Linked DNA regions of Homo sapiens. The protein of the gene in region 1 binds, or shares a complex with, the protein of each later gene. Each region holds a gene or a part of one and is shown in the gene's direction. Other genes may lie near its edges. The genes, in order: SNRNP200, LSM7, PPIH, SNIP1, PRPF3, LSM4 and PPIL2.

The links.
Region 2: SNRNP200 (region 1) and LSM7 share a complex: the UniProt entries of both Homo sapiens proteins name them as parts of the U4/U6-U5 tri-snRNP complex.
Region 3: SNRNP200 (region 1) and PPIH share a complex: the UniProt entries of both Homo sapiens proteins name them as parts of the U4/U6-U5 tri-snRNP complex.
Region 4: SNRNP200 (region 1) and SNIP1 share a complex: the UniProt entries of both Homo sapiens proteins name them as parts of the minor spliceosome.
Region 5: SNRNP200 (region 1) and PRPF3 share a complex: the UniProt entries of both Homo sapiens proteins name them as parts of the U4/U6-U5 tri-snRNP complex.
Region 6: SNRNP200 (region 1) and LSM4 share a complex: the UniProt entries of both Homo sapiens proteins name them as parts of the U4/U6-U5 tri-snRNP complex.
Region 7: SNRNP200 (region 1) and PPIL2 share a complex: the UniProt entries of both Homo sapiens proteins name them as parts of the minor spliceosome.

What each region holds. Positions count from the first base shown.
Region 1 is NC_000002.12:96,277,762-96,282,242, reverse strand, and holds part of SNRNP200 (U5 small nuclear ribonucleoprotein 200 kDa helicase), read left to right. Parts: intron 1-320; coding exon 321-429; intron 430-2,683; coding exon 2,684-2,792; intron 2,793-3,244; coding exon 3,245-3,434; intron 3,435-3,531; coding exon 3,532-3,696; intron 3,697-3,884; coding exon 3,885-4,006; intron 4,007-4,292; coding exon 4,293-4,436; intron 4,437-4,481. UniProt on the Homo sapiens protein: Catalyzes the ATP-dependent unwinding of U4/U6 RNA duplices, an essential step in the assembly of a catalytically active spliceosome. Plays a role in pre-mRNA splicing as a core component of precatalytic, catalytic and postcatalytic spliceosomal complexes.
Region 2 is NC_000019.10:2,320,623-2,323,886, reverse strand, and holds the end of LSM7 (U6 snRNA-associated Sm-like protein LSm7), read left to right. Parts: intron 1-2,064; coding exon 2,065-2,207; 3' UTR 2,208-2,366; downstream 2,367-3,264. UniProt on the Homo sapiens protein: Plays a role in pre-mRNA splicing as component of the U4/U6-U5 tri-snRNP complex that is involved in spliceosome assembly, and as component of the precatalytic spliceosome (spliceosome B complex).
Region 3 is NC_000001.11:42,664,695-42,669,175, forward strand, and holds part of PPIH (peptidyl-prolyl cis-trans isomerase H), read left to right. Parts: intron 1-168; coding exon 169-261; intron 262-1,285; coding exon 1,286-1,373; intron 1,374-1,852; coding exon 1,853-1,893; intron 1,894-2,656; coding exon 2,657-2,725; 3' UTR 2,726-2,746; intron 2,747-3,352; exon of another isoform or gene 3,353-3,457; intron 3,458-4,481. UniProt on the Homo sapiens protein: PPIase that catalyzes the cis-trans isomerization of proline imidic peptide bonds in oligopeptides and may therefore assist protein folding. Participates in pre-mRNA splicing.
Region 4 is NC_000001.11:37,547,174-37,551,654, reverse strand, and holds part of SNIP1 (smad nuclear-interacting protein 1), read left to right. Parts: intron 1-4,481. UniProt on the Homo sapiens protein: Required for pre-mRNA splicing as component of the spliceosome. As a component of the minor spliceosome, involved in the splicing of U12-type introns in pre-mRNAs. Down-regulates NF-kappa-B signaling by competing with RELA for CREBBP/EP300 binding.
Region 5 is NC_000001.11:150,334,494-150,338,974, forward strand, and holds part of PRPF3 (U4/U6 small nuclear ribonucleoprotein Prp3), read left to right. Parts: intron 1-441; coding exon 442-748; intron 749-3,666; coding exon 3,667-3,833; intron 3,834-4,481. UniProt on the Homo sapiens protein: Plays a role in pre-mRNA splicing as component of the U4/U6-U5 tri-snRNP complex that is involved in spliceosome assembly, and as component of the precatalytic spliceosome (spliceosome B complex).
Region 6 is NC_000019.10:18,305,512-18,309,992, reverse strand, and holds the end of LSM4 (U6 snRNA-associated Sm-like protein LSm4), read left to right. Parts: intron 1-131; coding exon 132-315; intron 316-2,437; coding exon 2,438-2,529; 3' UTR 2,530-3,757; downstream 3,758-4,481. UniProt on the Homo sapiens protein: Plays a role in pre-mRNA splicing as component of the U4/U6-U5 tri-snRNP complex that is involved in spliceosome assembly, and as component of the precatalytic spliceosome (spliceosome B complex).
Region 7 is NC_000022.11:21,682,288-21,686,768, forward strand, and holds part of PPIL2 (RING-type E3 ubiquitin-protein ligase PPIL2), read left to right. Parts: intron 1-149; coding exon 150-239; intron 240-894; coding exon 895-970; intron 971-2,465; coding exon 2,466-2,626; intron 2,627-4,195; coding exon 4,196-4,271; intron 4,272-4,481. UniProt on the Homo sapiens protein: Has a ubiquitin-protein ligase activity acting as an E3 ubiquitin protein ligase or as an ubiquitin-ubiquitin ligase promoting elongation of ubiquitin chains on substrates.

The sequences.
Region 1 (4,481 bases):
CGTGGCTGCATGAGTGTTAGCACTTTCTGGTCAGAGGAGCAGTCCATCAGCTGTAGTTTTGCCTTGGTGTTCCTGGGCTTTGGGTTCTGTTCTATGATGACTTGTTTTCTCCTGGATAGTCCCAGAGCAAGGCACCAGCAGCGTGGAGCTACCTCATAGCAATGTGTTAGCTCTCATTCATGTTAGACCTTGTTCCTAGCCAGCCTTGCTGTGAGTTCTGAAACATAGCACAGGGTAAGCCACGGCCTGCCCATGAGGCAGTGAGCCTACTTCACCCGGAGACCCCTGCCCTCAGCCTTCCTCTCCCCTCTACTGCTCAGGGGCTATCCAGGTGGTGGTGGCTTCTCGGAGTCTCTGCTGGGGCATGAACGTGGCTGCCCACCTGGTAATCATCATGGATACCCAGTACTACAATGGCAAGATCCACGCGTGAGTACAACTGGTGCTCTGTGTTAGCACAGACCTCCTTCCTAAAATGAATGTGAATCTGCAGATACACAGAAAGTAAGCTAGGATGAAGAAAAGGTGTTAGGGAAGTTAACAGCTGAGATGCCACCAGAGCCAAGTGTTTGAGAGTTTTGTGTCTCAATACCTAGGCTCACATTTGCTTTTTAGTCATTGTGCTTCCTTATTCAGCAGCTGGGAGAGGTAGGAAATTAGAGCCAGGAGGAATGTTTGACGTTACGTCATTAATCTCAGACATCTTGTAGATTAGGAAAAGTGACTTGGTCGAGGTCATACACCTATATAGTGACAAGTAAGAAGCTAGAGGAGTGCCGAGCGCAGTGGCTCATGCCTGTAATCCCAGCACTTTGGGAGGCTGAGGCGGGCGGATCACTTGAGGTCAGGAGTTCAAGACCAGTGTGGCTAACATAGTGAAACCCCCGTCTCTACTAAAAATAACAAAAATTAGCTGAGTGTGGTGGCAGGCGCCTGTAATCCCAGCTACTTGGGAAGCTGAGGCAGGAGAATCAGTTAAACCTGGGAGGCAGAGGCTACAGTGAGCTGAGATCCCACCATTGCACTCTAGCCTGGGCAACAGAGTGAGACTCCAACTCAAAAAAAAAAAAAAAAAAAAAGCCTGGGTGTGGTGGCTCACACCTGTAATCCCAGCACTTTGGGAGGGCAAGGTGGGCAGATCACCTGATGTCAGGAGTTCAAGACCAGCCTGGCCAACATGACAAAACCCCGTCTCTACAAAAATTAGCCAGGTTTGATGGCAGGTGCCTGTTATTCAAGCCACTCACCTGTAATTCAAGCCACTTGGGAGGCTGAGGTTGGAGAATCACTTGAACCCAGGAGGCAGAGGTTGCAGTGAGCCAAGATCGCGCCATTGCACTCCAGTCTGGGCAACAGAGTGGTACCCCGTCTCAAAAAAAAAAAAAAAAAAAAAAGGGCCAGGTGTGGTGGCTCATGCCTGTAATCCCAGCACTTTGGGAGGCCAAGGCGGGTGGATCACAAGGTCAGGAGTTCGAGACCAGTCTGGCCAATGTGGTGAAACCCTGTTTCTACTAAATATACAAAAATTAGCCTGGTGTGGTGGCACGCGCCTGTAATCCCAGCTACCTGGGAGGCTGAGGCAGGAGAATCGCTGGAACCCAGGAGGCGGAGGTTGCAGTGAGCCGAGATAGCACCACTGCACTCCAGCCTGAGCAACAGAGCGAGACTCCATCTCAAAAAAAAAGAAGTTAGAAGAGTCAGTCATTCTCATAAAAAAGCCTGCATAATTTGTTGTTGTTTTTTTTTTAAGACAATCTTGTTCTGTCGTTTAGGCTGGAATGCGGTGGTATGATCTCAGCCCACTACAGCCTCTGCCTGCCAGGCTCAAGCAATCATCCTGCCTCAGTCTCCCAAGTAGCTGGGACTACCAGCATGTGCCACCACTCCCAGCTAATTTTTCCTTTTTTTTGTATAGATGGGTTTTCACCATGTTGCCCAGGCTGGTCTTGAATTCCTGAGCTCAAGTGATCCACCCACCTCAGCCTCCCAAAGTGCTGGGATTACAGGTGTGAGTTATAGTGCCTGGCCCAACGCTTAATAACTTTTTCCTGAAATGCAGATTAGTTTGAAATGAATTTTATTTACGGGTTCATTTTTAATGTTTGAACCTGCTTCTAGGTAGGGTTAAAGTTGGGTGACTTGATGACTCACGAAATACACAACTATGAAGTTTGGAAAGTGTGGTGGTATGCACCTGTAGTCCCACCTGCTCTGGAGGCTAAAGTGAGAGGATCACTTGAGCCTAGGAGGTAAAGGCTGCAGTGAGCCGTGGCTGTGCCACTGCACTCCAGTATGGACAGCAGAGCAAGACCCTGTATCAAAAAACAAATAAAAACAATAATAATTTTTTTTAATTAAAGGAGAAAAGTTTGGGAAGTTTGACTTACATATTTGATCCTCGAATAGGGAGTTATTTTGGTTTTGGCATTAGATAGTTTTGTAGCTTGGTTCATGGCACTTGAGCAGCAAATTCATGGCCCTTACACTGAATACTAAAATGTTATACAGGCCAGCCAGTGAAGCTAGTTGTAAGTGCAGAGATTCATAAACAGAGTCGTCCCGTGATTTGTCCGTGTCTCCCCGTATTAACATTTTACTCTTACTTGGCGAAGGGAGTTGGGCTTCCTGAGCATGGTCTCCGTGTTGAGGTGGCTTTTCCTTCTTTCCCTGCTTCTGTCACCAGCTATGTGGATTACCCCATCTATGACGTGCTTCAGATGGTGGGCCACGCCAACCGCCCTTTGCAGGACGATGAGGGGCGCTGTGTCATCATGTGTCAGGGCTCCAAGAAGGTCAGTCCTAGACTCATGGAGCCTCTTGGATCCGTAGCCTCAGAATGGATTCTTTAATCTTTCTTTTGATAGATGTCTTCAGTAACTTTAGTCTCTTAACTTCTGCCTCTCTTATTTACACAATTCTTTTGTGACGAGCCTGCCACCCACATGGAATTTTGCTGCCTTTTGCTTTTGCTGCTGCCGTTGGCTCCACGTGTTGAGGTCTTCACCCTCTACTTGGTTCTCTCCTTCCTCCTTGGGCTGCTCACTGCTCTGCCCTCGTGACTTGCTGTACCTCTGTTCCCACTGCGTATTGTCACCAGTGATGCACTTTCTAAATGTGTGGCTTCTTCCATTTTGGTATTAGTTAGGTCTCACACAGGGACCATGCCCTGTTGATTTGCCCTTGGCCCTCTGTGACCGTGTTGTCACTAATTCTTTATTACTCCTTCTCCCTCTCCAACCCACAGGATTTCTTCAAGAAGTTCTTATATGAGCCATTGCCAGTAGAATCTCACCTGGACCACTGTATGCATGACCACTTCAATGCTGAGATCGTCACCAAGACCATTGAGAACAAGCAGGATGCTGTGGACTACCTCACCTGGACCTTTCTGTACCGCCGCATGACACAGAACCCCAATTACTACAACCTGCAGGGTCAGTGGGCTTGGGAGCACACGTGATCCTTTGGTGGTTCTCACAGTCTTTGCTGGGCATCTTCTTGAGGCTCCCCACTCACCTCTCGCCTCCATAGGCATCTCCCATCGTCACTTGTCGGACCACTTGTCAGAGCTGGTGGAGCAGACCCTGAGTGACCTGGAGCAGTCCAAGTGCATCAGCATCGAGGACGAGATGGACGTGGCGCCTCTGAACCTAGGCATGATCGCCGCCTACTATTACATCAACTACACCACCATTGGTGAGGCCCGGCATGGCCCGTGTCCTGTCTGTGGGAGCCTTTTTACACGGGTCAGGAGCCCACTGGGATGAGAGGTGCGCCCGTGTTTGTCAGCGGGATGACACTGCAGGGGACAGCAGGGGAGCCCGGGCAGTTCTGCTCCTTCTCTGCCTGGTTTTAGCTTCTCTCACATTTCCTTTTTCTGTCAGAGCTCTTCAGCATGTCCCTCAATGCCAAGACCAAGGTGCGAGGGCTTATCGAGATCATCTCCAATGCAGCAGAGTATGAGAACATTCCCATCCGGCACCATGAAGACAATCTCCTGAGGCAGGTGAGGACAGCAGACTTCAGGAGAGCATCCTGGGAACAACAAACTCGGCCTGTGTGCCCAGAGCACATGGCATCCCTGCCACCAACACGCCCATACGCATCCCCCGACCCCCGCCATATGTCCTCCCGCTCCATACCTCCCTCAAACCCATCTCCATCCCATTACCACCCACATGCCTCAGGGTGTTGAAGGGCTGTGTGAGCCTGGGCCACGTGGTGCTTTGGCCTGAGCTGGTCTCAGGCAGGGTCACCTGTTCATCACCAGCTATTTTTCTTCCACTTTGTAGTTGGCTCAGAAGGTCCCCCACAAGCTGAATAACCCTAAGTTCAATGATCCGCACGTCAAGACCAACCTGCTCCTGCAGGCTCACTTGTCTCGCATGCAGCTGAGTGCTGAGTTGCAGTCAGATACGGAGGAAATCCTTAGTAAGGTAGAGTGTGGGTGTGGGGCAGAGGGGTCAGTGGTGCTCTAAACA
Region 2 (3,264 bases), on another chromosome or scaffold:
TGTGGGGCCTGGAGAGACGGGAGCTGCCAGCTCACCCACTGGTCTCTACACACTGACGGGGCGCCCGGCACAGTTAGAGGACAACCTTTTTAAATGTTTTATTATTTTAATTTTTGTTAAATTGGTGACGTGAGAGGCCAGGCACAATGGCTCACACCTATAATCCCAGCGCTTTGGGAGGCCAAGGCAGGAGGATCTCTTGAGGTCAGGAGTTTGAGACCAGCCTGACCAACATGGTGAAACCCCGTCTCCGCTAAAAATGCAAAAAAATTGCTGGGTGTGGTGGCGCATGCCTGTAATCCCAGCTGCTCGGGAGGCTGACGCAGGAGAATCGCTTGAACCTGGGAGGCGGAGGTTGCAGTGAGCCGAGATGGTGCAACTGCACTCCAGCCTGAGTAACAGAGTGAGACTCCGTCTCAAAAAAAAGAGATAAGCTGAGGTCTCACTGTGTTGCCCGGGCTGGTCTCGAACTCCTGGGCTCAAGCCATCCTCCTGCTTCAGCCTCCCACAGTGCTGGGGTTCCAGGCGTGAGCTGTGGCGCCCAGCGGAGAGCAGCCTTGCTGTGGGGTAGTGAGCGTGCCGTGGGGCTCCTCTCGGGCGCCTTTCCTCTTCTGCCCTTGTTAATTCCCGCTATGAACGCAGGGTCCCTGTCTCCTCCCCAGAGGACCCTCCCTCATTTCCCTGCCCCCGCTCGCTCCCCTCCCCAGTGAGGCCGCCAAGTCCTCAGACTCTCCCCCAGAAGCTCCTGCGGCAAGTCCCCAGCTGGCAAGTCCCCATCCCGGCCCGGGCACTGGGGGAATGTCAGGACTTAGGAGAGAGAGGGTCTTGCCCCTTGGATCCATTGATACTGAGACAAGATTTATTCTTGTAGCTGGCCATGGTGGCTCATGCCTGTAATCCCAGCACTTTGGGAGGCCAAGACAGGAGGATCACTCGAGCCCAGGAATTTGAGACCAGCCTGGGCAACATAGTGAGACCCTGTCTCTACAAAAAAAAAAAAAATGTAATTAGCCAGGCATGGCGGTACATGTGCCTGTGGCCCCAGCTACTCAGGAGGCTAAGGCAGGAGGATTGTTTGAGCCCAGGAGGTTGAGGCTGTGAGCTGTGATTGCACTGCTGCACTCCAACCTGAGCAACAGAGCAAGACCTGGTGTCTGAAAAAAAGTTTAAAAACCTGGGCCCCATGGTTCTCCCATGCCCCCACCACTGCAGGACCACAGTAGTGAGGAGTTTTAATCGCCTTCAGCCTCTTGAGAGCTTGTCTTGGGCTTGCTGGCACTTCCCTGGGGTGCCAGCCCACATGGTCCCCACCCCACATGAACAGCCTCTTTATTTTTTTATTTTTTGAGATGGAATCTCGCTCTGTCACCCAGGCTGGAGTGCAGTGGCGCGATCTCGGCTCACTGCAAGCTCCGCCTCCTGGGTTCACACCATTCTCCTGCCTCAGCCTCCCGAGTAGCTGGGACTCCAAGTGCCTGCCACCACGCCCGGCTAATTTTTTTGTATTTTTTAGTAGAGACGGGGTTTCACCAAGTTAGCCAGGATGGTCTCGATCTCCTGACCTCGTGATCCGCCTGCCTTGGCCTCCCAAAGTGCTGGGATTACAGGCGTGAGCCACCGCGCCCGGCCCCCAGCCTCTTTGTTATAGGGTGAATATTGGCCCCCTAGGGCTCCAGGGACCTTGCAGAGACCAGGAGGCCCAGGGTGCCTGTATTCTGGCCGGCCATCTGATAACCTGGTTCCCGGCCCTGGTGCCTGGGCCCCAGTGAGCTCTGAGACGCGGGGTAGCCGGCTATCACCTGGGCCTTCTTGTTCCCATGGTTTGTGGAGTGAGGGAGGGCTGTGGCTGCTGTCTGTGGAGCTGCCACTGGTCTCTAGGGGCCATGGGTCTCAGCCGTGGGAGCCGGGGACCTGCCCCACAGAGCGCATCCCGTCTGAGGTCCCTGCGTGCTCGTGGCGCCTGCAGGGTGCAGGTGGGGAGGTCGGAGCGAGGGTCTTGGGTGGGTGGGGGGTCTCGGAGGCTTCCTGGAGGTCCCTCAGTCCTCTCTATCTGCTCCTCCCCAGACCCTGACGACCAGTACAAGCTCACGGAGGACACCCGGCAGCTGGGCCTCGTGGTGTGCCGGGGCACGTCCGTGGTGCTAATCTGCCCGCAGGACGGCATGGAGGCCATCCCCAACCCCTTCATCCAGCAGCAGGACGCCTAGCCTGGCCGGGGGCGCGGGGGGTGCAGGGCAGGCCCGAGCAGCTCGGTTTCCCGCGGACTTGGCTGCTGCTCCCACCGCAGTACCGCCTCCTGGAACGGAAGCATTTTCCTTTTTGTATAGGTTGAATTTTTGTTTTCTTAATAAAATTGCAAACCTCAATGTGTCTGAGCCCCGAATCTTGCTTTTCCCTTGACCTTCTGAGGAAACCTGGATTCCTGGAGATTGGACTCAGTCCCTGGAGCTCATCAAATACCAGCCATGGTCCCTCCTGGGGGTGAGGGTTCAGGAGTGACCAAGGCGGGCACAGCCAAGGCCGAGACAGGCGAGTTTGGAACCTCAGTCTGATGAGGGGCTTGTGGAACCCCAGGCCCGCCCCCAAGACAGCAGGAGCTGGGGTGCATCAGGAGCCGGGATGCATCAGGAGGCTGGGGTATATCAGGAGGCCGGGGTGCATCAGGAGGCCGGGGTGCGTCAGGAGCCGGGGTGCATTAGGAGGCTGGGGTGCATTAGGAGGCTGGGTGTGTCAGGAGCTGGGTGTGTCAGGACCTGGGGTGAATCAGGAGCCGGGGTGCATCAGGAGGCTGGGGTGCATCAGGAGCCGGGGTGCATCAAGAGGCCAGACCCCACAGCCCATGCAGCTAACACCTGCCCCCGCTGCTGCCCCCGCTTGTGAGATGGACTGGTCACCTACAGCCAGCCCCTTCTGGGTTCCTTCCGTGCTCACAGCATGTCCTGAGGTCGGGTGCAGTGGCTCTCGCCTGGAATCCCAGCACTTTGGGAGGGTGAAGTAGGAGGATCTCTTTGAGCCCCGGAGTTCAAGACCAGCCTGGGAAAATAGGGAGACCTCGTCTCTACAAAAAATATATATATTTTTTCCTTTGAGACAGTCCTCACTCTCACTCAGACTGGAGTGCAGTGGCGTGATCTCGGCTCACTGCAAACTCCGCCTTCCTGGTTCAAGTGATTCTCCTGCCTCAGCCTCCCAAGTAGCTGGGATTACAGGCACCCGCCACCATGCCCAGCTAATTTCTGTATTAGTAGAGATGAGGTTTTGCCA
Region 3 (4,481 bases), on another chromosome or scaffold:
GCTTGATCTGATTGCAGGGTGGGGTCAAATAGGTGCAGCTTCCAAGATGACCAACAAGAGTAAGAGTAGACTTTAAAGATGTCATGCTTTAGGTGCGACAGTGTTCTTCCTCCGGTTTCCAGGGACCCAACACTCCAAGTCACTAATACTTCCCTTCTCTCTGCTCAGGGAGATGGTACTGGAGTCGCCAGTATTTACCGGGGGCCATTTGCAGATGAAAATTTTAAACTTAGACACTCAGCTCCAGGCCTGCTTTCCATGGTAAGTGAGGTCCAATCAAGGTTTTGGGTTATAGCCAGCTGGTTCCTGGGCCCCTCTTGAGGCCCAGTGCTGTCTCTTGGGATGGAAGCAAATGCTTTCCTTCTCTTGCTTGGCCCAGGACTCACCTTTACCACCTCCTTTCTTAGTCTGGTTTGACTGAGAAAACCAGTAGGTATGCTGGCTCACGCCTGTAATCCCAGCACTTTGGGAGGCTGAGGCAGGTGGATAACCTGAGGTCAGCAGTTCGAGACCAGCCTGGCCAACATGGTGAAACCCCATCTCTACTAAAAATACAAAAAATTAGCCAGGTGTGGTGGTGGGTGCCTGTAATCCCATCTACTCGGGAGGCTGAGGCAGGAGAATCGCTTGAACCCAGGACGGGGAAGTTGCAGTGAGCTGAGATTGCCCCACTGCACTCCAGCCTGGGCAACAAGAGCGAAACTCCATCTTAAAACAAAGAAAAGAAAGAAAAGAAAACCAGTAGGTAAGGCCCACTAGCAGGCTAGCAGGCTGGGGAACTAAAATCTGAACCAGGATTTGTGTCTGGGCATTCAGCCCTACTGCTCAGAATGTAAACAGTTGTGCTTTCAAGACATATTCATAGCTGGGTGTGGTGGCTCACACCTGTAATCCCAGCACTTTGGGGAGGCCGAAGCAAGAGGATTGCTTGAGGTTGAGGTCAGGAGTTTGAACAATCTGGGCAACATAGTGAGACTTAGTCTCTACTTAAAAAAGAAAAAAAAAATTAGCCAGGTGTGGTGACACACACCTGTAGTCCCATCTACTAGGGAGGCTGAGGTGGGGAGGATTGCTTGAGCCCAGGAGTTTGAGGCTGCAGTGAGCCATATCCTGTTCATCTCTGTATCCTTGGATCCTAGCTTAGGCCCTGGCTCATAATAGGTGCTAAGTTAGATTTACTGAAAAAAACCATAGAGGAATCAGTGTTACAAGCTCTTTTGGAAATCTTGCCCTTCAGCTAACATGGCCGGGGAAACTTACTGCAGGTATATTTGGTTTCCATCAGGCGAACAGTGGTCCAAGTACAAATGGCTGTCAGTTCTTTATCACCTGCTCTAAGTGCGATTGGCTGGATGGGAAGCATGTGGTGTTTGGTAAGTCCTACTCCTGTCTCATGGTCCAGGCCCCATTCACCCTGGATGGAACCTCCAGAGGAGTTAGTTCTCAAACTCTTACCAAGAAAGCTCAACCTGTGTAACTGCTTAGGTGGTAATAGAGAAAACAGAAATGGTGGGGAGGTGGGGAACATGTGTGGCTAGAGAACTAGAGGGAAGGACAAAAGGACCATTTGATATAGTATGGAACCACTTAGGGAGAAAACCCAGTTGCTAGCACCAAAGAAATGCCATAGAGGCAGCATGATACGGTGAGACTTTGGAGTCACTCAGGTATAAGTTTGAGCCCTAACTCTACTTATTACCTATGACCTTGAGCAAGTCATTTCACCTCTACCGCATCTTAATTTCCTAAAGTTAGTATGAGGGTTTAATGAGAAAATAGCTAAGAATGGGCTTTGGAAGCTGGAAAATGCTATGTAAACAAGAATAAAGTCCAGCTCATGCTCTTCCTACAGGAAAAATCATCGATGGACTTCTAGTGATGAGAAAGATTGAGGTAAGTACTGCTTTGATTTTTCTGTTTCTCTGCCATTGTGGTCTGGTACTGTCTGACTAGCGTGCAGGAGCTAGAGAAGGGGGAATGAGCTCCAGTTTGTTAGGCTGTCTTCATTGCCCCAGGAAAAGGGAAGAGAACCACCTAAGTTAGCCTGTCTGGCCAACACTGAGGTTTGGCCTCTGATGATCCTGTTGCCTACTTGATAAAATTCTACTCCTCAGCATTGCGTTCAAGGTCCTTCATGATTAGTCCCTGTCTACCTCTCCATGGCCCCTTCTTCTGCCATTGCCTCTTCCATGTTCCAGTCACATCAGGCTACTAGCTCTTCTCTAAATCTGCCATGCATGTCCCTGCTGCTTGCTCTTTCCTGCCCCTGAGCCTTTGCTCACACAGTTTCCTCTAGCCGGAATGCTCTTCTTTCCTTCCCTCCTGATGGAATCCCATTCATCCTTCTAGGCACAGTTCAAATACCCCTCTTTTGTGAATCCTTCCCTGACCTCTTTAAGCCCCAATTTAGTTGCCTATCTAACCCTTATCCAATTCTCTCTTATAACTTTTTCTTATATAATCATAAGTTTGATATTTTCTAAGTGTTTTGCATTTTCTCTTTGATAGGTATTATATGCTTTACCTGTCTGCCAGGACATGGACTGTTTCTGAGTGCTGAGTCCTTAGCACAGGGCTGGCAGGCATCAGTAAAAGTTTGATAAGGGAACGAGGAAGTGCCTGAGTGGATGAATCTCCATTGTGCTTTTTTTCCTAGAATGTTCCCACAGGCCCCAACAATAAGCCCAAGCTACCTGTGGTGATCTCGCAGTGTGGGGAGATGTAGTCCAGACAAAGACTGAATCAGGTAAGTGTGTCTTTCTCCTATTAGGTTAGGAATCAGACCTCAGAGAAGGCAGCATGGTCTAGTGGAAAGAACTTTAGTCTTGAAGACATGAGATTGAGCCCAGTTCCTCCGTGTATGGCCTTGGAGTAGTCACTTTCCTTCTCTGAGCACATTTCCTCATCTGTCAAATGGAAATACTGTAATACCTATCTCTCAGAGTCACTGTAAAAATAAAAAGAGAAAGGGTTGTAGGAGCACTTTACTTTTCTATCACTTTGTAATGTACAAAGTATCAATGTGAAAACTACTCAGGCAGTTTGTAACAGCACTCTCAGACTACAGTTCCATTCAGTAGTCCCCCTAGAAAGACCTGGCTCCAGGCCTGAGTAACTCTCTGCTGGGACCAGGCCAGGCAGCCAGGAGACACACCTGTCATGCCTCTCATCAGAACTGATACTGCAATTCCAGGCCTCGACTTCATATTCGCTGGCCTCATAGGTGAATGCCTTGCATCTTCCAGCCTACATGGACTCATTTCTTACCCGTAATTACCACTGCCTGCTCTGCGCTGGGCAGCATGCTAGCTGCAGAGAGGGGGACAAAGAATTGAAAGATGTCTCCTTTCAGGAGCTCATGGAAAGTAAGACATTCCCAGAGGTGATCACTAGTAATATGAGTGACATTGCCAAGTATGAGAAGAGTACAAGGGAGAAATCCATCACTTCCAGCCAGGTGAGGGGTAGTGATGTTTTGTTTTTCTTTTTTTTTTATTTTCAAACCTGCAAAAAAGTTAGAAGATAATACCTTGAACACCAATATATCTTCACTTAGATTCACCAATGATTAACATTCTTGTTTTATTGCTTTGCCTTGACATTTGTTTTTTTCTTTCCCTTCTTGCCTCCTCACCCATTTCCATTGCCTCTCCTCCTCCCTCCTGCTCCTCTTCCCTCCCTCCATCCTTTCCTTCCTTTCTTCCCATCTTCCTTCCTTTACCCTTTCTTCTTCTCTTTCCCATTTGAAAGTTGCAGACTTCTTGACACTTTACCCCTAAGTATTTCAGCAAGGAACTCCTAAAAATAAGAACATCCTACGTAACCACAATATTATCTAATATATAGTACATTTTCAAACCTCCCCAATTGTCCCAAAAGTAACTTTTGTAGCTTAAAAAAAGGTGATCCAATCAAGGTTCCCATATTTCATTTCATTTGGTTTACACAAGTAACATAATACACTCTCATTGTGAAAACTTTCACACCAAACAGATAAAGTGAAAGCCCCTCTTGACAATACCCACCTGCAATTCCACTCCCCTTTCCAAAGGTCACTTCCTTATTAGTTTGATGTATGTCCATCAGGGCCTTTGCCTTGCCCATCTAATTTTGGGAGGTTTTCTTTTTCCCAAATGAAATCATACTATATTTTTCATGTTCTAAAAAATATGTCTTGAAAACTTTTCCTTCTTAGTTCATGTAAAACCACCTTGTATTAAAAAATGAAAACAGCCCGGCAGGAGGTGGCTCACTCCTGTAATCCCAGCACTTTGGGAGGCCAAGGAGGGCAGATAGCTTGAGCTCAGGAGTTCGAGACCAGCCTGGGCAACCTGGTGAGATCCCGTCTTTCCAAAAAAAAAAAAAATTAGCCAGGTGTGGTGGTGCATGCCTGTAGTCCCAGCTACTCAGGAGGCTGAGGTGGGAGGATTACTTGAGCCCAGGAGTTTGAGGCTGCAGTGAGCTATAATCACACCACTGTA
Region 4 (4,481 bases), on another chromosome or scaffold:
TCCTTGGATTGCAGATGGCTACCTCTTTGCTATATCCTCAAATGATCTTTCTTCTGTCCTGTTGTCTTTTCTCAGCCATATTGGATTAGGGCCCTACCCTCATTTTAACTTAACCAGCTCTTTAAAGACCTCATCTCCAAAAAGTTATTAATACATTCTGAGGTACTTGGGTTTGGTACTTTAACATGCTAATTTTGGAGGGTACAATTTAGTCCGTAATAGTGGCTGTATCATTTTATATTCCCACCAGCAATGTATGAATGATCCGGTTTCCCTGTATCTTTATCAGCATTTCAAGTTATCACTTTATTTTAGCCATTCTGATAGGCGTGTAGTGGTATTTCATTGTGATTTTAATTTGCGTTTTCCTTTTTTTTTTTTTTTTGAGACAGAGTCTGGCTCTGTCACCCAGGCTGGAGTGCAGTGGCACGATCTCGGCTCACTGCGACCTCCGCCTTCTGAGTTCAAACGATTCTCCTGCCTCAGCTTCCCGTAATTTGCATTTTCCTAATGGCTTATGATATTGGACATCTTTTCTTTGTGTGTCAGTGTGTGTGTGTGTGTGTGTGTGTGTGTGTGTCACCCAGGCTGGAGTGCAATGGCGTGATCTTGGCTCACTGCAATCTCCCCTTCCCAGGTTCAAGTGATTCTCCTGCCTCAGCCTCCTGAGTAGCTGGGATTACAGATGCCCACCACCACGCCCAGCTAATTTTTTGTATTTTTAGTACAGAAAGGGTTTCACTATGTTGGCCAGGCTGGTCTCAAACTTCTGACCTCGTGATCTGCCTGCCTCGGCCTCCCGAAGTGCTGGGATTACAAGCGTGAGCCACTGCACCTGGCCTTGGACGTCTTTTCATGTGCTTATTTGCCATCTATATGTATCTTCTCAGGTGCAATGTCTCATGTCTTTTGCCTGTTTATTTTTTATTTTTTATTTTTTATTTTTTGAGACGGAGTTTCACTCTTGTTGCCCAGGCTGGAGTGTAATGGCGCGATCTCAGCTCATTGCAACCTCAGCCTCCCAGGTTCAAGGGATTCTCCTGCCTCAGCCTCCCAAGTAGCTGAGATTACAGGCTCGTGCCACCATGCCCAGCTAATTTTTGTATTTTTAGTAGAGATGGGGTTTCGTCATTTTGACCAGGCTGGTCCTGAACTCCTGACCTCTGGTGATTCACCTGCCTCAGCCTCCCAAAGTGCTGGGATTACAGCAAAGTGAGCCACCATGCCCAGCTATCTTTTGCCTGTTTTCTAATACTATTATTTGCTTTTTTACTGTTTAGTGTTTAAGAATTCTTTTTATATTGTGGATACTAGCCCTTTGGGGATAAATGGTTTACAAATATTTTTTCCCAGTCTGTAGCTGTCTTCATTTTCTTAACAGGGTTTATCTCAGAGCAAAAGTTTTTAATTTCAATGAAGTCCAGCTTATCTGTTTTTCCTTTTATGGATTGTGCTTTTGATGTCATGGCTAAGAACTTTTTGCCTAGCCCTAGATCTCTGAAATTTTCTCCTAAATTTTTTTTCTTAAAAGTCCATGATCTGCTTTCAGTTTCTTTTCAGGGTTTCAGGGTTTTTGTTTTGTTTTGTTTTGTTTTGTTTTGTTTTTGTTTTTTTTGCCTATGAATGTCCACTTGCATCAACACCATTTGTTGAAAAGACCATCTTTCCTCCAATGAATTACTTTTGCTCTTTTGTCAAAAATCAGTTGGGCATATTTGTGTGGGTCTATTTCTGGAATCTCTGTTCTGTTTCATTTGTCAGTGTCTGTCACTCTGCCAATACCACACAGTCTTGATTACTATAGCTATATAATAAGTCTTGAAATTGTATGGACTGATTTTTCCCATTGTAGTCTTCTTTATAAAAATTGCTTTAGCTATTCAGCTTCTTTTTTCATCCATGTAAGTTTTAGAACAATCTTGCCTCTATTTTTAAAAAGTCTGGGCCGGTCACAGCGACTCATGCCTGTAATCCCAACACTTTGGGAGGCTGAGGTGGGCAGATCACTTGAGCTCAGGAGCTCCAGACCAGCCTGGGCAACATGGTGAAACCCATCTGTACAAAAAATACAAAAATTAGTTGGGCGTGGTGGCATGCCTGTGGTCCCAGCTACTCAGGAGGCTGAGTAGCTCCTGAGTGGGAGGATTACTTGAGCCTAGGAGGTTGAGGCTGCGGTGAACAGTGATCATACCACTGCACTCCAGCCTGGGCGACAGAGTGAGATCTGAAAGAAAAGTCTTGCTAGGATTTTGATAGGATTTGTGTTAAACTGGCGTTTGGGGGCAATAATTGACTTTTTACTATGTTAAATCTTCTAATCCATGAACATTGTGTATCTCCCCTTTTATTTAGATCATCTTTGATATCTTTTATCAGTGGTTGTAGTTTTCAGCTTATAAATCCTATACATATTTCTTTGTGGAATGATTATAAAGGGTATTTTAAATGAGTGTCCAAATGTTCATTGTTACTATATAGAAATATAATTCATTTTTGTGTGTTTATCTTCATCCTATATCCTTGCTGAACTAATGTATTCTAGTTTTTTTTTTTTTTTAAGATTACTTGGGATTTTCTACGTAGACAATCATATCTACAAATAGGGACAGTTTTATTTCTTCCTTTACAATCTGAATGCATTTTATTTCCTTTTGTTGTTTGCATTAGTCCGTTTTCATGCTGTTGATAAAGACATACCCGAGACCCGGCGATTTACAAAAGAAAGAGGTTTAATGGACTTACAGTTCCACATGGCTGGAGAGGCCTCACAATCATGGTGGGAAGCAAGGAGGAGCAAATCACACGGATGGCGTCAGGCAAGGAGAGATAAAAGAGTAATGAGAGCAGACACTCTTGCCTTATTCTCAATTTTGAGGGATGAGAATTCAGTCGTCTTTTTTTTTTTTTTTTCTTTTTTTTTTGAGACGGAGTCTCGTTCTGTTGCCCAGGCTGGAGTGGCGCAATCTCTGCTCACTGCAGCCTCCGCCTCCTGGGTTCAAGGGATTCTCCTGCCTCAGCCTCCCAAGTAACTGGGATTAGAGTCTGGGCCGATCACAGTGGCTCATGCCTGTAATCCCAGCACTTTGGGAGGCCGAGGCGGGTGGATCACCTGAGGTCAGGAGACCAGCCTGGCCAACATGGTGAAACTTCGTCTCTACTAAAAATACAAAAATTAGCTGGGTGTGGTGGTGGGCGCGTGTAATCCCAGCTACTTGGGAGGCTGAGGCAGGAGAATCACTTGAACCTGGGAGGCGGGGATTACAGTGAGCCAAGATCGCACCACTGCACTCCAGCCTGGGTGACAGAGCAAGACTGTTTTAAAAAAAAAAGCAAATTTTAAAAGACAAATAACAGTATAACAACTATTTATATAGCATTTACGTTGTATTAGGTATTATAAATAACCTAGTGATGATTTAAAGTATACAGAAGGATATTCACAGATTTTTATATAAGGAACTTGAGCATCCTAAGATATCTTTTTTTTTTTTTTTTTTTTTTTGATATGGAGTCTCGCTGCGTTGCCCAGGCTGGAGTGCAGTGGTGCGATCTCGGCTTACTGCAAGCTCCGCCTCCCGGGGTTCACGCCATTCTCCTGCCTCAGCCTCCTGAGTAGCTGGGACTACAGGCGCCCGCCACCATGCCTGGCTAATTTTTTTGTATTTTTTTTTTAGTAGAGACAGGGTTTCACTATGTTAGCCAGGATGGTCTCCATCTCCTGACCTCGTAATCCACCTGCCTTGGCCTCCCAAAGTGCTGGGATTACAGGCATGAGTCACTGCACCTGGCCCTGAGATAATCTTTTTTATCCACTGGGGATCCTGGAACCAATCTCCTGAGGATACCAAATGATTACTTTATTCTTTTCTCAACCTCTGAACCACCATTTTGTGTTTTTTTTTGGTTGTTGTTGTTGTTTGTTTGGTGAAGTGTTGCTCTGTTGCCCAGGCTAGAGTGCAGTAGTGTGATCTTGGCTCACTGCAATCTTTGCCTCCTGGGTTCAAGCGATTCTCGTGCCTCAACCTCCCCAGTAGCTAGGATTACAGGCACGTGCCACCATGCCCGGCTAATTTTTGTATTTTTAGTAGAGACGGGGTTTCACCATGTTGGCCAGGCTGGTCTCAAACTCCTGACCTCAAGTGATCCACCTGCCTCAGCCTCCCAAAGTGCTGGGATTACAGATATGAACCACCGTACCCAACTGAACCACCATTTTCGAAACAAATGTATTGATTACATGCTCATTGTAATAATACAGAGGTATGTAAAATATAAAATGAGAGTATGGTTTACTTCTCTCGTCCCCAAAATTGCACCACCTCCTCAACCAAAAAACCTCCACCTCACTTGCCAGAGGTAATCACTATGATATAGACTCTCTGTCCATCATCACATGGCCTTCTCCCATGAATCTCTCTATCTCTTCTCTTCCAAGGTCACCAGTCACGTGGGATTAATGACCTATATTACTTCAGTATGAC
Region 5 (4,481 bases), on another chromosome or scaffold:
TGTATTTTTTGTAGAGATGGGGTTTCACTGTGTTGCCAAGGCTGGTCTTGAACTCCTGGGCTCAAGCCATCCACCCGCCTCAGCCTCCCAAAGTGCTGGGATTACAGTGTGAGCCACCACACCCGTCCATCCAAATAACTCTTATAGAGAAGGCACTGCAGCCTCAACTTCCTGGGCTCAAGTGATCCTCCTCAACCTCCTGAGTAGGTGGGACCACAGGTATATGCCACCGCACCCAGCTAATTTTAAATTTTTTGTTGAGATGCAGTCTCCTTGTGTTGGCCAGACTGGTCTTTAACTCCTGGGCTCAAGTGATCCCTCTGCCTTGGCCTCCCAAAATGCTGTGGTTCCAGGCTTGAGCCACCACGCCTGGCTTTATTTTGTTTTTTGCTTGCCTTAATGTTCCATACAGGATTTATTTCTTTGCGGGCTATTTTTCAGGAAGGTGGAGTTAAAAGACCAAACGAAACCTACACCACTGATCCTGGATGAGCAAGGGCGCACTGTAGATGCAACAGGCAAGGAGATTGAGCTGACACACCGCATGCCTACTCTGAAAGCCAATATTCGTGCTGTGAAGAGGGAACAATTCAAGCAACAACTAAAGGAAAAGCCATCAGAAGACATGGAATCCAATACCTTTTTTGACCCCCGAGTCTCCATTGCCCCTTCCCAGCGCCAGAGACGCACTTTTAAATTCCATGACAAGGGCAAATTTGAGAAGATTGCTCAGCGATTACGGACAAAGGTATCTGGCTTAGAGTATAACACAGAATTTGGAAAAAGTTAAGAAGCTGACAAGAAAACATTGTTAAATCTCTGTGTTCTAGGAAATTAGATAAATAGGTCATTTAAAGCAGCAGTCCTCAACCTTTTTGGCACCAGGGACTTGTTTCATGGAAGATAATTTTTCCCCTGGAGTAAGGATGGTTTCGTGATGGTTCAAGCACATAGCATTTATTGTGTACTTTATTATTATTATTTTTTTCGAGATGGAGTGTCGCTCTTGTTGCCCAGGCTGGAGTGCAATGGGGCGATCTCGGCTTGCTGCAACCTTTGCCTCCCAGGTTCAAGTGATTCTCCTGCCTCAGCCTCCCGAGTAGCTGGGATCACAGGCATGTGCCACCACGCCTGGCTAATTTTGTATTTTTGGTGGAGACGGGGTTTCTCCGTGTTGGTCAGGCTGGTCTCGAACTCCTGACCTCAGGTGATCTGCCCACTTTGTCCTCCCAAAGTGCTGGGATTACAGGCGTGAGCCACCGCCCCCGCCTTTTTTTTTTTTGGGCGGGGAGGGGGATGGAGTCTTGCACTGTTACCTGGGCTGGAGTGCAGTGGTACAGTCTCAGCTCACTGCAACCTCTGCCTCCTGGGTTCAAGCAATTCTCCTGCCTCAGCCTCCTGAGTAGCTGGGACTGCAGGCATGCGCCGCCATGCCTGACGAATTTTTTGTATTTTTAGTAGAGACAGGGTTTCACTATGTTGGCCCGGCTGGTCTTAAACTCCTGACCTTGTGATCTGCCTGCCTTGACCTCCCAAAGTGCTGGGATTATAGGCGTGAGCCACTGTGCTGGCCTATTTCTATTATTATTTTATTGTAATATATGATGAAATAATTATATAACTCACCATAATATAAAATCACTGGGAGCCTTGAGCTTGTTTTCCTGCTGAAATGGTCCCATTTGGGTGTGATGGGAGACAGTGACAGATCATCAGGCATTAGATTCTCATAAGGAATGTGCAACATAGCCCCCTCACATGTACAGTTCACAATAGGGTTCGCGCTCCTCTGAGAATCTCATGCCACCGATGATCTGACAGGAGGTGGAGCTCAGGCCATAATGCAGGTAATAGGGAGCAATCGTAAGTACAGATGAGACTGTTGGCTTGCCTGCTGCTCACCTCCTGTTGTGCAGCCCAGTTCCTAAAAGACTGTTGGGTTGGGGACCCCTGATTTAAAGCAATGAATACTTTGAAAAATGTGCTGGACAAGATGGCTCAAGCCTGTAATCCCAGCGCTTTGGGAGGCCGAGGTGGGTGGATCACGAGGTCAGGAGTTCAAGACCAGCCTGCCCAACATGGTGAAACCCCGTCTCTACTAAAAGTACAAAAATTAACCGAGCGTGGTGGTGGGTGCCTGTAATCCTAGCTACTTGGGAGGCTGAGTCAGGAGAATCACTTGAAACTGGAAGGCAGAGGTTGCAGTGAGCTGAGATCGCACCACTGCACTCCAGCATGGGCAAAAGAGCGAAACTCCGTCTCAAAAAATATATATATATATTTATTAATATAATACATAATTTTTTTAGCAGATTTTACTTCCTAATTCGTTTCTACATAAGTGGAAATATTATGAAATTGAGTTTGAAAATTCTCCACATACAACTAAGTGGAGGGAAACAATTTGAAACATTCTGAGTGACTAAGGAAGGCTTGCCTGTAGTTAAAATTTAATGAGACAGTACACCTGGAGAGTTGAATTGATTGTATATTGAATGACCTTTGCCGCCTTTTTATCCTCTCAAAGTGAGGTTTTCATAAAATTCCTTTTTTTTTTTTTTTTGAGACGGAGTCTCGCTCTGTCACCCAGGCTGCAGTGCAGTGGCACGATCTCAGCTCACTGAAAGCTCCGCCTTCCAGGTTCATGCCATTCTCCTGCCTCAGCCTGCTGAGTAGCTGGGACTATAGGCGCCCGCCACCACGCCCGGCTAATTTTTTTGTATTTTTAGTAGAGACGGGGTTTCACCGTGTTAGCCAGGATGGTCTCGATCTCCTGACCTCATGATCCTCCCGCCTCGGCCTCTCAAAGTGCTGGGATTACAGGCGTGAGCCACCACACCCGGCCATAAAATTCTATTTCTGCGTATTTACTGCAGGCATATACTGTGGAGTGCAGGGAGGGGTTGAAGGTGAGATCTATGTATATGAACTAAATAAAGGATAAAATAAAGCAGAACAACTCCTTTCTAAGCTTTCAGAAATTATGAACTTGTTGCGTTAGGTGTAAAGAGTTCAACGGGGAAGTGTTTTAAAATTTGGGATTCTTGGCCGAGGTGGGCGAATCACTAGGTCAGGAGATCGAGACCATCCTGGCTAACATGGTGAAACCACTTCTCTACTAAAAATACAAAAAAATGAGCCGGGCGTGGTGATGGGCGCCTGTAGTCCCAGCTACTCGGGAGGCTGAGTCAGGAGAATGGCGTGAACCCGGGAGGTGGAGCTTACACTGCACTGCACTGCAGCCTGGGTGACAGAGTGAGACTCCGTCTACAAAAAAAAAAAAAAATATTTGGGATTCTGGCCGGGCACAGTGGCTCATGCCTGTAATCCCATCACTTTGGGAGGCCGAGGCGGGCAGATCACCTGAGGTCGGGAGTTTGAGACCAGGCTGAGCAACGTGGAGAAACCCCATCTCTACTAAAAATACAAAATTAGCTGAGGGTGGTGGCACATGCCTGTAATCCCAGCTACTGAGGAGGCTTAGGCAGGAGAATCGCTTAAACCTGGAAGGTAGAGGTTGCTGTTAGCCAAGACCATGCCATTGCACTCCAGCCTGGGCAAGAAGAACGAAACTCCGTCTCAAAAAAAAAAAAAAATTGAGATTCTACACATTCTGTTTTCTATGACTCCAATTTATCTTTCTGTCTTGGATTATCTTGTTTTTAGGCTCAACTGGAGAAGCTACAGGCAGAGATTTCACAAGCAGCTCGAAAAACAGGCATCCATACTTCGACTAGGCTTGCCCTCATTGCTCCTAAGAAGGAGCTAAAGGAAGGAGATATTCCTGAAATTGAGTGGTGGGACTCTTACATAATCCCCAATGGCTTTGATCTGTGAGTTTGTTTTAGTACCTTTTTAAAAAAACAGTTTTTAATCAGCTGAGTTTAAGACTCAAGTTAATACCTTTTAGTAAAGCTATGGTTTTAGTGGGAAGGATGGTACTCATTCATTAATTAAAATTTTTAAATCCAAGAGAGATAAGTAACTGTACACAAGGTCCTGTTATTTTTTTTTTTTTTTTTTTTGAGAGGGAGTCTCGCTCTGTCACCCAGGCTGGAGTGCAGTGGCACGATCTCAGCTCACTGCAACCTCCACCTCCCGGGTTCAAGAGATTCTCCTTGAATTCTCCTTGAATCTCAGCCCCTCAAGTAGCTGGGACTACAGGTGTGTGCCACCATGCCCATCTGCTTTTTGTATTTTTGATAGAGACAGGGTTTTGCCATGTTGGCCAGGCTGGTCTCGAACTCCTGACCTCAGGTGATCCGCCCACCTTAGCCTCCCAAAGTGCTGGGATTACAGGCGTGAGCCACTGCACCTGGCCAAGCTCCTGCATTTGTAAGTGATGTATCATATATATAGGCTGTTTTTAGCTTTTGGGGTTAATGTAGGATAACCAGGGACACAATCTACAAAAGCAAAGTCTAGAATTCTTTTTGCTCTGTTACACATTGTTGCCTGTTTTTAGCATTATTTTCCTTAAT
Region 6 (4,481 bases), on another chromosome or scaffold:
GACTGATACTGTGCAGCTTGCAGGGGTGGTACGGGGTGCAGGCTGGGCAGGATCTGCAGGGCCTCCCGCGCTCCCAGGGCTGGGCCAGACGGCCCGGTGGTAAGTTAATAACCTGCTCCCCTTCTCCGCAGGACGGGGACAAGTTCTGGCGGATGCCCGAGTGCTACATCCGCGGCAGCACCATCAAGTACCTGCGCATCCCCGACGAGATCATCGACATGGTCAAGGAGGAGGTGGTGGCCAAGGGCCGCGGCCGCGGAGGCCTGCAGCAGCAGAAGCAGCAGAAAGGCCGCGGCATGGGCGGCGCTGGCCGAGGTGGGTCTCCCCTCTCCAGTGGACGTACCTGGGGCGGGAAGACAGCCACACGTGGCATCCCTCCTTCTTGGGGTTGCCCTTGCAGCGCTGCCTCGGAGCCTCCCAACCCTCCCGGGCCCCCCTCCTGGTCCTTGGCCATGAGCCGAGGCCCAGGCAGAGGAGCCCCGAGACCTGGGACTCAGCCCTCCTCTCACTGCGCCTCCTGGCGGTCCTCAGGGCACATCAAGTCACCTCCCCAAGCCTCAGTTTCCCCTCTGAGAGGGTATGGTGGTGCCCATCTGTCCAGGCCGCTGGCAACTCCACTTGGAACCTGGCGTGGCTCTATCCAGAGCCAAGGTCGCCCGCCCCCACCGGAGATGATGAATTGGCATAAAATTCCATTTGTTAGGCCCAGGGGCCATCTGTAGCCCCTGCCCTTCCTCACCTCTCTGTCCCCAGCTCTGTGTTCTCGGGGGGACCTGGGCTTTGCTTCTGCCATCCATGGGCACTGCCTGTGTGCTGGGCTCAGGTGCCAGCCTGGGGGCTTGCAGCACGGCATGGCTGCCCCCGGAAGGCCCCAGGCGCCAATTCTGTGCAGGCTCACGAGGTGGTCAGGAGTGAGCCCGAGGGAGGGGCAGGGATAGTACTCCAGGCAGGGAGCTTTGGGGATCTCAGGGTGGGTGGGGCCTCTGGGGTCCCCGGCCTGGCTCCTTCCCAGTAGTTGGGGTCAAGGTTGTTGAGAGAGTGGGTCGGGTCCTACCTAGGGAAGTGGGGGGTTTTCTCTGGCTGCTCTGCAGGAAGCCACTGGGCCATGGAGTGCAGATAGCAGCCTCGCAGTAACCCCCACCAGGCTGTGCACCCTAGCACAGCTGGTCCTGCCTGGTGAGAGGGGAGGTTGGTGGCCCAGGCCAGCGTTGGCCTCTGGCCTCTGTCCCCACAGGGCCTGGTGGCCCCTGGCTGGTGAGAGCCCTGACCTCTTAGATCCTCTGAATCTGGACCCCTGACCCCACCTTCACGGGGTTGAGGTCTGCAGAGTAGACCGTGATTCCAGTTCCTGTTGGGGTCAGTCCTCCTGTCCCCAGACCTCCCTGGCCCACGACTGAGCCTCCCAGCGGGCTCTGTGGAGGGCCTGAGCTATGCTGCCTGCAGCGCTGGCCTCTGGCCCCTGGCACCCAGCACATGGGCCACAGGGCCAGCTCCTCTTGCTGGCCTTGGCTCTCCTGCTGTTTGAAGCTCCAGCTTTGATTTCCTCAAGCGTTCGTCCAGCTAGAAAGTTCTCTGAAACGGCTCCCTAAACGGGGCTTACAGAGCTGGGGTCCCCAAGGGAGACAGAGAGGGAGGGATCAATGTTGGGTCCCGGCCTGACCAACCTGCTGCGTCCAGGCCTGGCCTGTGGTGAGGGTGGCGTGAAGGGGCGCCAGGCACACAGAGGGTGTGGGGACAGGCGTGCCCTGCGTGCAGCCTGCTCAGGATTACTGGAGGTGCCGCTGTAGCGTCCACTCAGTCCCTGGGGCCCTCATCTCCCGGGAACCCCCTGTCACCTCCCCAGTGGCCACATGCTCCCACCTCAGGGGCTTCATGGAAAATGTCATTTGTCCTCATGGTCTATCTCTGGCCTCAGGCCTGCTGGGGAGTCCCCTCCCCTTCCCCATCCCTGGGGCTGGATACACAGAAATCCCTCTTTCTGTTTTCCTCCTGGCAGGTAGATGAGGGGCTGTGGGTGGTTGTGGCGCATAGGAGGCCCCCCCCCCGCCAGGGAGCCCCCAGCCTGGCCTACTGCCCTGGTCTCTGCTCCACGCCTCTCCTACCTCCTCCTCCTCCTCCAGGAAACCCTTCTGGCTTTGTCCTTTAGGAAGCCTGCCCCAACCCCCAATGTGACTTAGTGTCCTCTGTCGCCTAGTCCCCCCCCCCCGCATCCCTGGGGGCTGGGTCTAGTCCCATAATGAGGATGCCCTGGAGTTCCTGCCTTCCTCAGATGCTCTGCCCCACGGAGGAGATCCAAGCACCCTCAGTCACCACCTCACACATGAGGAAGCTGAGGCTGGAGACTTAGGTGACCTGGCCTAGAGTTTCAGGGCGCCGGGATCCTGTCGAAGGTCCCACCCACCTGGCTCTGCTGCAGCGCCCTCTCTCTGTCCTCTAGGTGTGTTTGGTGGCCGGGGCCGAGGTGGGATCCCGGGCACAGGCAGAGGCCAGCCAGAGAAGAAGCCTGGCAGACAGGCGGGCAAACAGTGAGCGCCCACCCAGACCGGCTGCTGCGCCCCCTCCTGCCAGGGTGGCGATTCCGCTCCACAGTCTCGGACGGATCTGCTCAGAAAGGAAGAGGCAGGCGCCAGGGGGAACCCCCTTCGTGTTTTGTGACCCTCCCTTTTAGGTGAAGCCCCTTTTTCTTGCTAAAACCGGCAATTCTCCGGTTAGAAATGTTACTTGGTGTTTTTTGGTTTTGTGAAACGGCCGTCCCAAAACTGGCTGGATTCCTAGAAGAGTCTGTGTTGAAGGCATCTTTCAAGCCCTCGCTCTGGTTCTCAGGGCAGCATTTTCCAGGCGGGTTTGTTTTGCATTTCTTGGAGCCTCTCCGAGCAGCAACCAGACGGGAGATTTTTATTTTAAGCTGTTCATGCTGGGACTGACAGCCTGCAGGGTTTCCTTGGGCGCGGCCCCAAAATTGCCTTCAAAACAAACCCGGGACGGTTGAAAGCCTTCGAACCGTGCAGGGGATGCCTCGGGCCCTGGCCCTTCGCTTCCTCTCTTGTGTTATGGAAATAAAAACAAATAAAACTACACACTGCACATCCACTGTTCCTTTTGAGCTTCTGGGTGCACCTAGCGGGTCTCCTGCCCTCTGTCCATCGCTGGACTCTCAGGAAATCCCCGTTCCCGTAAGGGAAGCTTCCTTTTGAGAGTTCTCACCAGGTGTCAGCGGCACAGTGAGGCACTGATGTCCTTTTACAAAAGGCAAGACCAGCATCTGGACAGTGGGGGCTCTTGAGAGTCCCCGGCGCCCCCCACACCAGGTTGTCCTATAACCCTCTCCCCTCTGTGGAGACGTTAATGCCAAGGGGTGTGTGGGGAGGGAAGTCCCAGGCAGGGGCCACGCATGGTCCCCATCACCCCCTCCTGGGTGGCCTGGACTCCATCATCTATCCTCATCTGTCCACACTGGCGTTCACACAGAGAAGACAGGACAGGAATCCCCTCGGAAGATGCTCATGGAAGATTCTCACGAGGCTCCTGCCCCCTTTCTGAGCCAGGCCGGGTTTGCCACTCCTCGGGCGCGCACCTGAGACACTGAGTCAGCGCTTTCGAGAAAGGCTCCGGGTAGCATCTGTGGACCGTGAAGAAACCAGAGGGAAGCCCTGAGCCAGGCAGCGGCCCGTCCCCCTGCATAGCCTTCTCTTCAGGGTCCTCGTTCGGAGACCTATTTTGAGAGGTGATTGGAATAAAAGGTCCCGTCCGTGAGGAACTCTTTTTCTTGAGTCTTCAGAGTTACTTGCCATCGTATAGATTTTGCATTTACAATGTCCTCGCCTGGGATGTTCTCCTTGTGTGTGGGGTGGGGGACAGGGATGGATATCTGCAGTCGCCTGAATCCTCTCCGCCACAGCGGCACTTGATTGATGGTTAGAGATGGGGCATGTGGGGTCCAGGATGTGGCCTGCCCTGAACCTCACAAACCCGCCCCCTCAACACAGGCAGGGGCAGCAGTTGGGGGCCCGGGCCTGGAAGCCTTGGGATGCACCGGCCCACGGCACCCACCTGCCTGTTGGACAAGAGCATTTTTTTTTTTTTTTTGAGACGGAGTCTCGCTCTGTTGCCCAGGCTGGAGTGCAGTGGCACAATCTTGGCTCACTGCAACCTCTGCCTCGTGTGTTCAAGCGATTCTCTTGCCTTAGCCTCCTGAGTAGCTGGGATTACAGGTGTGCACCAACACAGACGGCTAATTTTTGTATTTTTAGTACAGACACAGTTCCACCATGTTGGCGAGGCTGGTCTTGAACTCCTGATCTCAAGTGATCCTCCCGCCTTGGCCTCCCAAAGTGCTGGGATTACAGGCATGAGCCACTGCGCCTGGTCGACAGGAGCATCTCTTGGCACACCCCATGCCCCTACAGTGTGGGCCGTGCAGGGGGCTGGGCTCACAGGGCGAGGTGGGTGGGGCAATGTTTAGAGGAGGAGGGAAGGAAGGG
Region 7 (4,481 bases), on another chromosome or scaffold:
AGCCAGTGGGGTGTACACTGCTGTCTCTCTCATTCCTCATGCCTCTCAAATCGTGCCATGGTCGGGGCCAGCTCCAGGCCTCCCTGCTTGCAGTCCCCTGTGCCAAGGCTTGGGGCAGGCATCGTAAAACCACTTCCTCCTGGCTATAGGCAGTGGAACAGCTAAATATCAAGGCCAAGAACTTCCGGGACCTGCTGACCGACGAGCCCTTCTCCCGGCAGGACATCATCACCCTCCAGGTGAGTGTCCCCTGCCTGCCTGCCCCAGCTGCCTTCAGCACCTGCAGCCAGCCCAGGCCTCTACAGGGCCCTACCCCCACGTCAGGGCCCCTCATATCTGTCCTCAAAGCCACCTGAGGCATCTGAATAGCCACTCTGCAGGCCTGGCTCTGCTTCAGCGCCTCGAGGGCAGGAGCTGGCATGAGCTCTGCAAAGACCCTGTATCTGGCACAGGGTCCCTGCAGGTGTCAGAGAACCCCAAGTGAATTAATGAAAAACACTGACTTAGAAAAGCAGGTGCTGGCTGGAGCGTGGCCTGCTGAGTCAATCACCTCTGTGGCTTGTCCCATTCTAACCAGAGGTCGGCCCACGGCTGCCCACGTTCCGGTCCGATAGCTCCCTAACAGCAATGAATGCTCGTTAGCCATGTGCCTGGAGGAAGGTCACAGCTCAGCCAGCAGCTAGCGAGGCTGCGTCCCCGTCCCTGCCCCTGCCCCTGTTTGCTGCCCTGCCTGGGGCAGACCACCTCCTCCCTCATGCCCTGCTTGACTCCCCCAACCTCAGTGTAGCCCTGGCCTCTTCCACACCTCTGACAGCTGGCCGTCCTTTGCTGCATGTGGCTGCCATTTGGCCGTAGGCTGGGTTCACTCTGCTGGGCATTCTCTTTTTGCCACAGGACCCCACCAATTTGGACAAGTTCAATGTCTCTAACTTCTATCATGTGAAGAATAACATGAAAATAATAGACCCAGGTATGTACACCTAGGGGCTGGGCTAGGCGAGGGGGCTTTTGGATGAAATTGGGACAGTGCTCCCTGGGTAAAGCCCCCGCTTTCCTGGAGGTCAGGGGGTCCCAGCCCAGACAGGCCCTGCATTTTCTGAACTAGTGTTCAGAGAATCTGAGCCAACTGCAGCCTCAGAAACAATGGGCGGGATAGACTTGCTGCCCTGCCAGCACACCTGCTCAGGTTCCCCTGCTCCCTGCAGACTGGCCGGTGCTGTCAGTGGGCAGGTGGTGGGGTGATGGGGTCCTCCTGTTTCCCTGGCCTCTGGTGGCTGTCCTGCAGCCTTGGAGGAGCCAGCAGGACTCATGTTCAGAGGTCACTCGGCCTTGTGCTGCAGAGCAGTGGCCTGGGCACTTTGTGAGCATTGTTTGAACGGGTTTTAGGTAGGCTGAGCACGTGAACTGGGGAAGATTTGAGTCAGGAGAGCCTGAGGTCAGGGTTGGGGCTGGGCCGTGTCTGTGCTCTCTGCACAGGGATGCCGGCCCCTCTCCACAGGGTGGGCTGCTGTCCAAGGCCCAGTAGGCAGCAGGCACCCTCCTGAGTCGGCAAGAATGGGTGATTTCACATCTGGAAAGACCCCCAAACACTTCTATTATTTTAAATAAAAATAACCTTTAAAATTACAGAAGCAAAGCAACTGGGTGTGGTGGCTTATGCCTGTAACCCCAGCACTTTGGGAGGCCAAGGCAGGCGGATTGCTTGAGCTCAAGAGTTCGAGACCAGCCTGGGCAACATGGGGACACCCTGTCTCTACAAAAAATAGAAAAATTAGCTGGGTGTAGTTGGTGCGCCTGTAGCCCCAGCTACTTGGGGGGCTGAGGCAGGAGAATCGATTGAGCCCAGGAGGTGGAGGCTACAGTGAGCTGAGATCTTGCAACCGCTTTCTAGCTGGGGCGACAGAGCTAGACCCTGTCTCAAAAGGCTGGGCGCGGTGGGTCACGCCTGTAATCCCAGCACTTTGGGAGGCTGAGGCAGGCGGATCACGAGGTTACAAGATTGTAACACAAAAAAATTAGCCGGGCGTGGTGGCGGGCGCCTGTAGTCCCAGCTACTCAGGAGGCTGAGGCAGGAGAATGGCGTGAACCTGGGAGGCAGAACTTGCAGTGAGCCGAGATTGCACCACTGCACTCCAGCCTGGACGATAGAGCGAGACTCCATCTCCACAAAAAAAAAAAAAAAAAAAAAGAAAAAAAAAGCAAAGCGTATACTCTAAAAAGATTAGAATATACAGATAAATATAAAATATACAAATCAACCTGAAGTCCATCCTGAGACCCTTGTGAACTGCCTGGGGAGACCTTCAGGCCTGTAGCGGGGCACTGTGGCATTCTGTGGCTGGCAGTGGCACGGTGCCTGCGCCATGGCTGGACGGCCCTGGGCTATTCTAGATCTGTGTCCCCAGCACGTGTGTGGGGAGGCTACTGGGGGCTCGGCGGCTCAGGGCCATGCTACTGTTTTGTAGATGAAGAGAAGGCCAAACAGGACCCGTCTTATTATCTGAAAAATACAAATGCCGAGACCCGAGAGACCCTGCAGGAGCTCTACAAGGAGTTCAAAGGGGACGAGATTCTGGCAGCCACCATGAAGGCCCCGGAGAAGAAGAAAGTGGACAAGCTGAACGCTGTGAGTGGCGGAGGGCACTCGGCCAAGCCCAAGCCCCGTCTTCCTGCCCATCTCATGGCCTCTTGGAGTGGTCCTGGGAAAGGGGCTCATGGGGGCCTGGGATACACGGCAGGGAGGCAGCCAGGATCCCCCAGAGCTGTGGTGCCCCTGATGGCTCTGAGTGCACAGCCCTGGGGCTGCCCTGAGGCAGATAGAATCTGAGAAGGCAGAAGGGGAGGGGCTGATGTCCACACTGGTCGTTGAAGAACCAAGGGGTGTGTGGGGGCATGTAGGGGAGATCCCTGCCACAGAAGGTCTGCCTTGTGCTGTGGTCCCAGCCTGAGCTCAGTAGCCAGGGCAGGCACGTTGAGCGGGCACATGTGGTTCTGTGGTGGCTGGGAGGGCAGGGCCCGATGTGCACTGGGGCCCAAAGCCATGCCAGGGAGAGTTGGGGCGTTTCATGGTCTGCTGCGGTGCTGACGTGGATGGCATGCCTGGGACTGCACGGTGCCACCTGTCTGGGGCTGTCGTGTTTGCTTCTTCCTCCTGTCAGGCAGAGCATGGGGATCTGGAGCTAGGGGGAGGGCAGAGACATGGGCAGGTAGCTCTGAAGTTCTCCTTCTTAAAGAATTATTCAAATTCTGGAAAATTTGAAAAAGAAAGCTTGTTGTCCAGTGTGTCACTCCGTCTAACACACTGCCCTTAGCACTTTGATATATTACTTTTTTTTTTCTTTTGGAAACAGGATCTTGCTATGTTGTCTAAGCTGGTCTTGAATTCCTGGCTTCAAGTGAGAGCCTCCTGCCTTGGCCTCCGAAAGTGCTGGAATTACAGGTGTGAGCCACTGTGCCTGGCTTGTATTTTCTTCTGATGGGAGAAACCCCTTTTTCTTCCTCTATGATAAAAAATAACATTTATTGGGGCTTTTCCCCGACCCCTGATTAAATATGTAATGTGTTTAGTGTAGAAAGTTTGAAACTTTTAAAAAGAAATGAGGCCAGGCGTGGTGGCTCACACCTGTAATCCCAGCATTTTGGGAGGCTGAGGCAGGAGGATTGCTTGAGGCCAGGAGATCAAGACTAGGTTAGACAACATAGTGAGACCTTATCTCTACAAAAAATCAGCCAGGCGTGGTGGCATGCGCCTGTCGTCCCAGCTACTCAGGAGGCTGAGGTCGGAGGGTCACTTGAGCCCAGGAGTTGGAGGCTGCAGTGCACCAGGATCACACACCACTGCACTCCAGCCTGGGTACAGAGCAAGACCTTGTCTCATAAAAAAATTAAAATAAAAATAAATGAGAAGTCAGCCATACACTCCTAACCCTGAGGTGGCCAGTCCTGTGTGGTATTTTATCTCCAGGGTTTCACCTGATATCATAAGAGTCGGGATCCAGTGGAGGCCAGGGGACCCTGGCTTGGCCTAGCCTTGGCTTCTTCCTCCTGCTGGTTGGGGAGGCCCTCCTGGAGGAGAGGCACCAAGCAGGGCCTGGGGGGCAGGGGTGGCGTGTGGTTGGCTTCTAGGCAAGCGACACGTCCCCACCCAACTGCCTCCCATGGCACTGCTGAGGTGCCACCCTGGTTTCCTTGGCAGGCCCACTATTCCACAGGGAAGGTCAGCGCTTCCTTCACCTCCACCGCGATGGTCCCGGAGACCACACATGAAGCAGGTAGCCACCTTGGCCTCTGTAGCCACCTGCCATGTGACCCAAAAGTGGCAGGGGGTGGGTGTGCTCCCCGACTCCCACTTTATTGGTCTGTCAGGGGCTCCCACTGTCACCTGAGCCCCTAGTCCTCCCCCTCTTAGCTGCTGAACCCCTGCCAGCCCCATGAGGCTGGGGTGAGCCTGTGCGTGGCCTAAGCAGACCCTCGGCCTCCAG